2 separate regions of the Homo sapiens genome follow, and region 1 is linked to region 2. A link means that fine-mapping ties the variant in region 2 to the expression of a gene that starts in the linked region. Tissue or cell type: whole blood. Region 2 holds a variant in brackets; the other region holds the start of a gene. All regions are shown on one strand. Distances are from middle to middle.

Region 1 (4,752 bases), 42 kb before region 2:
ACAGACTTGTCTTCCACTTCGTGCTCACTGGGAAACATGTTTTTGTTAGTGATCAGTCACTAACAAATCAATCTCAGTGTTTTCTCAACGTGGGCTCTATTACCTTTTGGGTTGACTGATTCTTTGTTACAAATGTCCCTTGGGGAGCAAAAAATCTCATCCAGCTGAGAATTCACTGGTCTGTTGAAAATATGACCCATCCAATTTTCTGCTACATGTGTAAGGTTAATTAAATGCAAGTATGATGCAACTCCACTGTAAATCCAGTCCCAAATCAAACTATTCACCTTTTTCCTTCTCTTCTGCTGTACTAGTATTTTTCAGCCAAAAACCAGAAAACAAAAATTTCCTAACAGGAACCCTAAACTGTTTTGGAATAACATAATTTTTTTTTGGAGACAGTTTTGTTCCTGTTGCCCAGGCTGGAGCGCAAAGGCGCGATCTCAGCTCACCGCAACCTCTGCTTTCCGGGTTCAAGCGAATCTTCTGCTTCAGCCTCCCAAGTAGCTGGGATTACAGGCATGCACCACCATGCTCGGCTAATTTTGTCTTTTTAGTAGAGATGGGGTTTCTCCATGTTGGTCAGACTGGTCTTGAACTCCCGACCTCAGGTGATCTGCCTGCCTCGGCCTCCCAAAGTGCTGGGATTACAGGCGTGAGCCACCGCGCCTGGACAAAATGATCAGAATTTTTAACCATCAAATTGGAACAGAAATAGCTGAAGCCCAGACTTTCTGAATAAACAATGGAAAAATAGTACATTTAACATGACATGCAAAACCAAGGGTTATCATACCCTTCTCTCCCCATCAAGAACTAAACCACTTTGACTAAAAGTTTCAGAGGGTTTGACATAAAAACGGAACTTGGTGACAAGAGACGAAGGATTAACTCTCACCTGTAATAACCTGAGCAGTCAAAGCCTTTGTTAAATCGATTTAAAAGCCACAGAAAGCATCATATTAGATTATTTGTTATACAGAAGTCTTTGTAAGCTAGCTACTCAAAAAGTTTCAACGAGTCATTTAAGAAAAAATAATTTTGTAGAAACCACGTGCATTCTTGCAACAGAGGTTGCCCTATACACTAGCTATCTCAACTGCTACTATAATAATTGTATTCCAATTCTAATGCAAATTAAAGGACTAATTTGAAAGGGTAAGAATGGAAAAAGCTATACAGCATGTTGCTTTTTATATCTAGTCTTAAAATGAACACCGGGCAAAGTTTACTATTTTCAGTACTTACTGCCCAAAGACAAGGATTAAAAATCACTAAGAACATAACATGATACATTTTAAAAACTGTGGTCAAGTGGTTATCATTTTTAAATGGCAATGCTTTCCTGCTCAAATTCTTTACAGATTATACCACCTCTCAAGCCAGTTTTGGTCACTTTCTTCGAATTGGAGCTTACTGATCATCCCGGTTGGGTTCTAATAGAGCTGGTCTCTGAGCTGAGCCTACTTTTCAGCCTCCAGCCCCAAGAGGATATAAATACAGATAAGTACAGGATCGAGGGCTGAGGGACGCGCCACACGCAATACCTAGAGGTCTCAAAAACAGGAAAAAAAAAAAAAAGGCAGAGCACAGGAAAACGAAAGCTGAAAAAACACTGCAAAGCAAATACGTCCTCTCCTGGCCCACATGCTGGGTATAGCTGGATCTGTCAGCTTCGAGAATAGTTAGACAACCCTGGCCCATTGTTCCTACAGCAGGCTAGAGCATTTGGAGGGAAAAATACCATATCCGGCAGGGCCCGGTGGCTCACGCCTGTAATCCCAGCACTTTGGGATGCCGAGGCGGGTGGATTGCTTGAGGTCAGGAGTTCGAGACCAGCCTGGCCAACATGGTGAAACGCCGTCTCTGCTAAAATAAAAAAATTAGCCGAGCGAGGTGGCGGGCGCCTGTAATCCCAGCTACTAGGGAGGCTGAGACAGGAGAATTGCTTCAACCCAGGAGGCAGAGGTTGCAGGGGTCTGAGATCCCGCCACTGCACTCCAGCCTGGGCGATAGAGTGAGACTCTCTATCTCAAAAAACAAAACACCTCCCCCACGTCTCCCTCTACCGAGTAACAATCGGGAGAGAGTTCATCCTCAGGCCCAAGGCACGCCGGACCCGAGCGAGCAGGCGGGCGCGCAACCGCAGGGCGGACCGGGGCTCCGAGGCCTAGAGTCAGGCCTGGCGTCCCTGCGGCGGGAAGAAGGGTCAATCCACCGACTAGAGTGGCGGGGAGCATCACGCGGCGCTGCATGGGGCTCGTGGGGAGGGGAAAACGTATGGGGCTGGGGTCGCTCTGGAGGCCGGGGACTCGGACTCGGGTAGCCGCGGAGGCCTTTCTCACCATCGCGCCAAACTCTCTTCGCTACAGCAGCTGCCGACACCGCCGCCGTTACACGAGCTTAACTACAACGCCGCTAACAGCCAATCCTCGCGAGAGGAGCCGCCGGAAGTCGTCGAAAGTGCAACGCAAAAGAGCCTTTTGGATCATAGAGGCACAGTCACTTCCGGCAGCTAGAGCAGCTACTGACTCTGTTTCAGCCATCTTCGATAAAGGCAAAAAGGTAAGGGAAAGTTTCCAAGCTTTAGGAAGAATTATTTTTTTTCAAGACGCTGTCTTCCGTACTTTCGTTATTAAACATACGGCTCAAGTGATCACCGGTATAGACAGTGACATCAGACATCTTTCATTAGCCCTACTCAAAAATGGCGGCAACGTAAGTATCCTGGGCCGGAGGTCGGTTGTAACCCGGAAGTGCCTTTGTAAAGGAGGGGGTGGTTAGACAATCCGGAAGTGGATGGAATGAAGAGATGCCACTTGGCGGCCATGGCAGCTGTAGTATCGGCGACTCCGGGTCAAGGCCCGGTCGAGTGCAGTACCATGGGCAGCACCGGGTATAGGGCAGAGACAGCTTTGTGTCAACTTTGCTGCTGAACCCCTAGGACCCATCGTTAGAGACCTGCAGGACTCCTTTCCTCATCCCAGGCTCGGAGGAGAGTTTGCTGGGACTGGTGGGCTGGTTTCCTGCTCTGGGGGGCGGATCACCTTCGGGGCCGCCTCTTGGAGACAGGGGCGCCTAGGGAACGAACAGGTTCGCTTGAGTCACTTACCCGCCGCCGCCTAAGACATTGTGCCACCCTCAATCCGACAATCGAAGAAATCGATCATTCGCACATTTTCCCCATTGACTTTTCCCATCTCTGTTAACCCACGAGAATCTAATGACTGGCATCTGAGAACCCAGAGCCTGGGACCTTAGATTGCTGTAAGCTTTCTCTGGTGCTAATATCAGCAAAAAGGGTCTGTTGCCGGGTACGTTCAAGAGGAAGGTGCCTCGTGAACACATCTGCTGGTGGGAAGGCCTAAAGAACTGGAAAGCCCACTCTCTTGGAACCACCACACCTGTTTAAAGAACCTAAGCACCATTTAAAGCCACTGGAAATTTGTTGTCTAGTGGTTGTGGGTGAATAAAGGAGGGCAGAATGGATGATTTCATCTCCATTAGCCTGCTGTCTCTGGCTATGTTGGTGGGATGTTACGTGGCCGGAATCATTCCCTTGGCTGTTAATTTCTCAGAGGTAAGAAATTCTCAATTTTCTGTCAGCTGTCAGGATGGCTGTGAGATAGTAGTTTTAGTTGCAAAGGGAAGCTGCTTCCCTAGTTAAATCTCAAAGCTGAAGGTCTCATTAAGAAAGACTATCTTTTTTAAAAGATACATGACACTTAATAATAGAAAGAAACCTCATATTCATTAGTGGAATTCTTAACCTGGGGTGGATAGATATTCCACGGAAGATCCTGGAGTATTCTGAATCCCCTAGAATTGCTTACAAAAATTTGAGGTTCTGTGCATTTACCTGGAGAGAGGCACCATAACATTTCTTTTGATTCTCAGAGGTTTCATGGAATCAAGATTCCAGATTGTTATCAAGAAAATAAATGGAGGGCTGGGCGCGGTGGCTCACGCCTGTAATCTCAGCACTTTGGGAGGCTGAGGTGGAAGGATCGCTTGGGCCCAGGAGTTCTAGACCAGCCTGGGCAACGTGGCGGGACTTTGTCCCTACAAATGAGGCTGAGGCAGGAGGATCGCTTGACCCCAAGTGGTTGAGGCTGCAGTGAGCCGTGTTTGGGCCACTGCACTCCAGCCTGGACAGCAGAGTGAGATCCTGTCTCCAAAAAAGAAAAAAAAAGAAATGGAGAATGTTATTTTTCTACATGAACTGAAATCAATATGATAACTTCCTTTTGAGAAAGTCAAACACACCTTTCTGAGGAAAGCTGTTTTGTTTTTTGGATGTCTGTACTAGAATGAATGTAAGAAAAAACTAAGATTGTTCTTAACTCACATTTCCTTTTAAAGAAGGGGAGCCTTGGAATTGATATTCTGAAGTTGTTTCAAATCTATTTGCTTAGCAATGAATTTTTGGTTAATACGTTTTGACATTTTCGTTAATTTGATTGGCACCTTGAACAGATGTTAAGCGAGGGTCCCGGGAAGAGGGATAGATGAAAGCACTGTTCAGTGAACATGCTGATAGGTCCTTTAGGTAGGCAAAAGGAATTCACGAAGTGCACAGCGTTCAAAGATTTAGGGGGGAAAAACTACTACATTCAAAGGGAACAAGATTTCATGAGTTTGTCCTAGAGTTCAGCAGTAAAATAGGCCCTAGTTTCAGTGCCATTCCTGAAAGTACTTTCAAAGGAGGCCTGAAGTAGAAAGGAAAGGTATAAATGAAATATTAAGTACACC
Region 2 (5,520 bases):
TCTCCAACATTCCTTTTAAAATGTAAAATGTTAATACCTCTGTTAAAGAAGTTTTTTTGTTTGTTTTTTTTTTTTTGAGACGGAGTCTCACTCTGTCGCCCAGGCTGGAGTGCAGTGGCACCATCTCAGCTCATTGCACCCTCCACCTCCCGGGTTCAAGCAGTTCTCTGCCTCAGCCTCCCAAGTAACTGGGATTATAGGTGCCTGCCATCATGCCCAGCTAATTTTTGTATTTTTAATAGAGATGGGTTTCACCATCTTGGCCAGGCTGGTCTTGAACTCCTGACCTCGTGATCCACCTGCCTCAACCTCCCAAAGTGCTGGGAAGAGTAACTCAAAAAAATCTGTGAAGTAACTTAACCATGATATTACCTTTCAGCTAAGCTGTCTCCAGATTTTTTACATCTTTCTTCATACTGATGAGTTTAGACATATCATTGTAATTTTGTTTTTGCTGCTTTACTCTCTCTTTTCTTACCCTCTTCCCTTACCCTTTTTTTTTTTTTTGAGACAGAGTTTTGCTCTTGTCACCCAGGCTGGAGTGCAGTGACACCATCTCGGCTCACTGCAACCACCGCCTCCTGGGTTGAAGTGATTCTCCTGCCTCAGCCTCCCTAGTAGTTGGGATTACAGGCACCTGCCACTAGGCATAGCTAATTTTTGTATTTTAGCAGAGACGGGGTTTCACCATGTTGGCCAGGCTGGTCTTGAACAACTGACCTTAGGTGATCCACCTGCCTTGGCCGCCCAAAGTGCTGGGATTACAGGCATGAGCCACCGCGCCTGACCCCCCTCTTTCTTTATTGTAGACCAAAACAACTTTTCTTCGTACTTCAAGAAAGACGTTTGTATACATGTTACTACAGCCTATGGTTTCGTTCTTCTGTGGACCTTATAATTATAATACATTGTTTTCAGAACTCAGTATATCATGTTAACTAAGTGCTCTGATGCTTTAATAAGCATTATTAAATACTAATTAATGTAAAAAGGAACCTCTTACTCTTCTGTAATTATAGCTCTAAAATCACTGGAATTAGATGATTATCAGCTTTCACGTAAAAAAAAACTGTCTATAGAAACAAGTTTTAAGAACTTCAAAGATTGTTGGGTAATGCAGCACTTTACTGTGCAGCCAAAATTTGAAAACATCTCAAAATTCTTTGGACTGTTAGAATTGGTATGTTTAGGAAGGTAGACTATTGGGTCAAAGATGAAAATATAAATGTGATGTATTGTCAAAACTGCTATTGTCAGCCATGGCTCAATGTAGATTATCCCACTCATTTTTATCAGTTCTGTAAGAATGCCATGTATCAGATTCTTTATAGAGGTATGATTAACTGTGGCTTTTTCTGTCACTTTACTCTACATTAAATAAAATATAGGGGGCCCTAGCCAGAACAGTCAGGCAGACAAAAAAGATAGAAGGCATTCACATTGGAAAGGAAGAAGTAAAGTTGTCTCTGTTTTCAGGTGAGATGATCTTATGCATAGAAATACCTAAGGATTCCACACACAAAAAAATTAGAACTAATAAACAAATGCAGTTAAGTTGCAGGATACAAAATCAGCATACAAATATCAGTTGCATTTTTATACACTAACAATGAACTATTTGAAAAAGAAACTATGAAAACAATTTCATTCATAATAGCATCAGAGGGGGAGGGAAAGCATTAGGAGATATACCTAATGTAAATGAGGAGTTAATGGGTGCAGCACACCAACATGGCACATGTATACATATGTAACAAACCTACACGTTGCGCACATGTACCCTAGAACTTAAAGTATAATTTTTAAAAAAATAATAATAGCATCAGAAAATAAAATAAAATAAAATACTTGGGCATAAATTTAACCAAGGAGGTAAAAGATCTATATGCTGAAAACTATAAAACATTGATTTAAAAAATTGGAGAAAATATAAGTAAGGTATTCTGTGTTCATGAATTGGAAGAATTAATATTGTTAAAATATCCGTAGTACCCAAAGTGATCTACAGATTTAATGCAACCCCTATCATAATTCCAGTGGCATTTGCTATGGTTTGGATATTTGTCCCCTCCACATCTAGTGTTGAAACTTGATCCCAGTGTTGGAGGCGGGGCCTGGTGGGAGGTGTTTGGGTCATGAGGGTGGATCCGTCATGCACATATTGGTGCTATCCCCTTGCTGATGAGTGAGTTCTCCCTCTATAATTTAACAAGAGAACTGGTTGTTTAAAAGAGCATGGCACCCCTCCCCTCTCTCGTCTTGTGAAATACTGACTCCTCTTCCCCTTCTGCAATGATTGGAAGCTTCCTGAGATCCTCAGATTCGTGCTTCTTGGACAGCCTGCAGAACTGTAAGCCAAATAAACCTTAATAGAACGATCCTAAAATTCATATGTAACCACAAAAGGCCCTGAAGCCGGGGTAATTTATAAAGGTCAATTAAAGAGGTTTAGTTGACTCACAGTTCAGCATGGCTGGGGAGGCCTC[A/C]GGAAACTTACAATCGTGGCGGAAAGCAAAGGGGAAGCAAGGCACCTTCTTCACAAGGCCGCGGGAAGGAGAAGTGCTAAATGAAGAGGGGAAGGGCCCCTTAAAAACCATCAGATCTTGCAAGAACTCACCATGTAGTACACCTGTAAACCCAGCTACTCGGGAGGCTGAAGCATGAGAACCACTTGAACCCTGGAGGCACAGGGTTGCAGTGAGCCGATATCATGCCACTGCACTCCAACCTGGGTACAGAGTGAGACTCTGTCTCAAAAACATAAGAATAGTGTCAGGCACGGTGGCTCAAGCCTGTAACCCCAGCACTTTGGGAGGTCAAGGTGGGCGGATCACTTGAGCTCAGGAGTTTGAGACCAGCCTGGGCAACATGGCAAAACTACATCTCCACAAAAACAATATAAAAATTAGCAGGACTTGGTAGCTCACATCTGTAGTCCAGATTCTTGGGGGACTGAGGTAGGAGGATGACTTCAGTCCAGGAAATGGAGGTTACTGTAAGCTGAGATTGCACCACTGTAGTCTAGTCTGGGTGAAAGGGCCATACCTGTCTCAAAAAGAAAGAAAGAGAGAGAGACAGAGAAAGAAACAGAAGAGTACATTGTAACTGTTGTAAGGTTGGATATTATTTTGTGAAACTGTTTTGTTTTGTTTTGTTTTTTTGAGACAGAGTCTCCCTCTGTTGCCAGGCTGGAAGGCAGTGGCGTGATCTCGGCTCACTGCAACCTCCGACTCCCTGGTTCAAGCGATTCTCCTGCCTCAGCCTCCTGAGTAGCTGGGATTACAGGCACGCGCCACCGTGCCCAGCTAGTTTTTGTATTTTTAGTAGAGACGGGGATTCACCATGTTGGCCTTGATCTCCTGGCCTCGTGATCTGCCCCCCTTGGCCTCCCAAAGTACTACGATTACAGGCATGAGCCATTGCACCTGGCCTGTTTTGTTTTGTTTTTAAGAGACAGGATCTCTAGGCTGGACACAGTGGCTCATACTTGTAATCCACCACTTTGGGAGGTCAAGGTGGGAGGATCACCTGAGCCCCAGATTTCAAGACCAGCCTAGGCAACATAGGGAGACCACATTTCTACAAAAAAATTTTCAAATTAGCTGGTTATGGTGGTACTTGCCTGTGGTTTCCCAGTTACTTGGGAGGCTGAGGTAGGAGGATTGCTTGAGCCCGGGAGGTCGAGGGTGCAGTGAGCCATAATTGCACCACTGCTGTACTCCAGCCTGGGTGAAAGATGAGACCTTGTCTCAATTTTTAAAGAAGGCTTAAACTGCTTAATCTGATTATAAATGATAAATGTCTAGTATGTTATTCTCTATTCATGAAATATAGCAAAGATAAGCTTTTTGGCCTTTTGAAGCATTTATGTTTTAAATGACAAATATGTTACTGTAAACTGGGATTATCAGCTGGCCAGGTATCATTTACTGCAGTTCAGAGTCTCCCAACCTCCATATTTCTAGAACTGAATTTAGACTGAAGGATGTGCCTCTTAAACTGCTCTGCCCTTTTGGTTTCTTGCTGGCAATTGTCTGCTGATATTTTATAAAGCTAAAAATTTTCTACTCAATTTGTTCCTTATTTTACATTTTTATCTCAGCCTAGGTATAAACTAGATGAATTTGATTGCAATTATTTTCATTGTTACTGCTCTTCATTTGCCTATTTTCATCAGAAAAAAACAGTGTATTTTCTGGTGAGATTGGCATGAATTTCTCAGATAAAGGAATATTTGGGGATGGTGTCCCTTTGGGAATATGATTGCTTTCTTGCATGGTGATTTGCTTCCACTTCCCAGGTGTTGAGAATAATAGGCAGTCAGAAGGTCTGCATGCCAAAGGCAGAAGACATTTGGGAATTTTTTCATCATGAACTTTAAGTTGAAGGAGTTAATGATTGGCTGGATTACAATATAAAAAGTGGATGTCTTTACAGTAAAGTAAGTAGAGCTTGAAATACAAAGAATGGAAACTCCTACATGAAAATGTTTTTAGGGGAAAAACATATTTTCTCTTTATGGTTTATTCTGCTCTAGGAAAACACCACCAAGCAAGTGAAACACATAATGTGATTGCATCAGACAAAGCAGCAGAAAAATCAGTTGTCCATGAACATGAGCACAGCCACGACCACACACAGCTGCATGCCTATATTGGTGTTTCCCTCGTTCTGGGCTTCGTTTTCATGTTGCTGGTGGACCAGATTGGTAACTCCCATGTGCATTCTACTGACGGTGAGTGGCTCCAAGGCTTTCTGGGCAGTGCAATACATTTGCAGTTGAGAAAGTTACAAACGATCAAATATTTCAGTCTGTATCAGTGGCCATATTTAGTGCTAAAACTCTTGTCTTCCTTGGGTTCTAGTGAACATTTAACTAAGTGGGGAGAGCTAGTGAGTTGTGGCATGTGGCGCAAAGAAGTGTTTATTGGTTTATTACTTTGCTTGTCTTAAAGTTGTCACATTTGGTTGAGAGTCTAGGGCAGAAGTTCTTAACTTAGTTTTTTGCTGTGGAGCCCTTAGGCAGTCTAAAGACTGTGGACCTTTTATTGGAATATTGTTTTTAAATGTATAAAACATAGTACATAAGATCAAAGAGAAAACCACCTTTGTTGAAATACAGTTACTAAAACATCAGAACAAATTTGTGATATAGTAATGTATGTCTTTATCAGTGCATTAAATAATGAGATAATACATTTAAATCCTAAACAAGTTAGAGTTGAATTTTATTTTCTAGGACATTAGTATGCTAGCTATTACATAATAATATGCTTGGCTTAAGAACATTAAATTATGAGGTAGTCTGTAACAAGGCAACATGTATGTCAAGTTAAACATCTAGTTGATTTTGGGTTTTTGTTTTGATGGTTATTGGTGTAGAAAATCTTGATTTACAAAGGTATTTTCTTACAAATGTACCTAAACACATTTGTAGCTTGCTTTTTAAGGAATCATAAGCTTCTCTAAAGGACAACTAGAATTCCCCAAGACTTTTCAAATTTGACTCCAGTCATAGTA

The links. PIP is the estimated chance that this variant, and not a neighbour inherited with it, causes the effect.
Region 1: it holds the start of SLC39A9, and the variant in region 2 is fine-mapped to the expression of SLC39A9 in whole blood (TOPMed, PIP above 0.99).

What each region holds. Positions count from the first base shown.
Region 1 is chr14:69,395,886-69,400,637 of GRCh38, forward strand. It overlaps SLC39A9 (solute carrier family 39 member 9), which reads left to right and starts at 2,807. Exons shown (of 7, transcript NM_018375.5): 1 at 2,807-3,580. The coding sequence starts at 3,485. ERH (ERH mRNA splicing and mitosis factor) reads right to left here and starts at 2,414. Exons shown (of 4, transcript NM_004450.3): 1 at 2,346-2,414. The coding sequence starts at 2,348. RefSeq lists enhancers at 1,414-1,922, 1,923-2,430, 2,632-3,831, 2,760-3,099 and a silencer at 2,423-2,663.
Region 2 is chr14:69,437,532-69,443,051 of GRCh38, forward strand. SLC39A9 (solute carrier family 39 member 9) reads left to right here. Exons shown (of 7, transcript NM_018375.5): 3 at 4,538-4,735. Among named protein-coding and RNA genes, the nearest start is that of SLC39A9, 42 kb to the left of the region's middle. The variant A/C (reference allele first, on the strand shown) is at 2,487.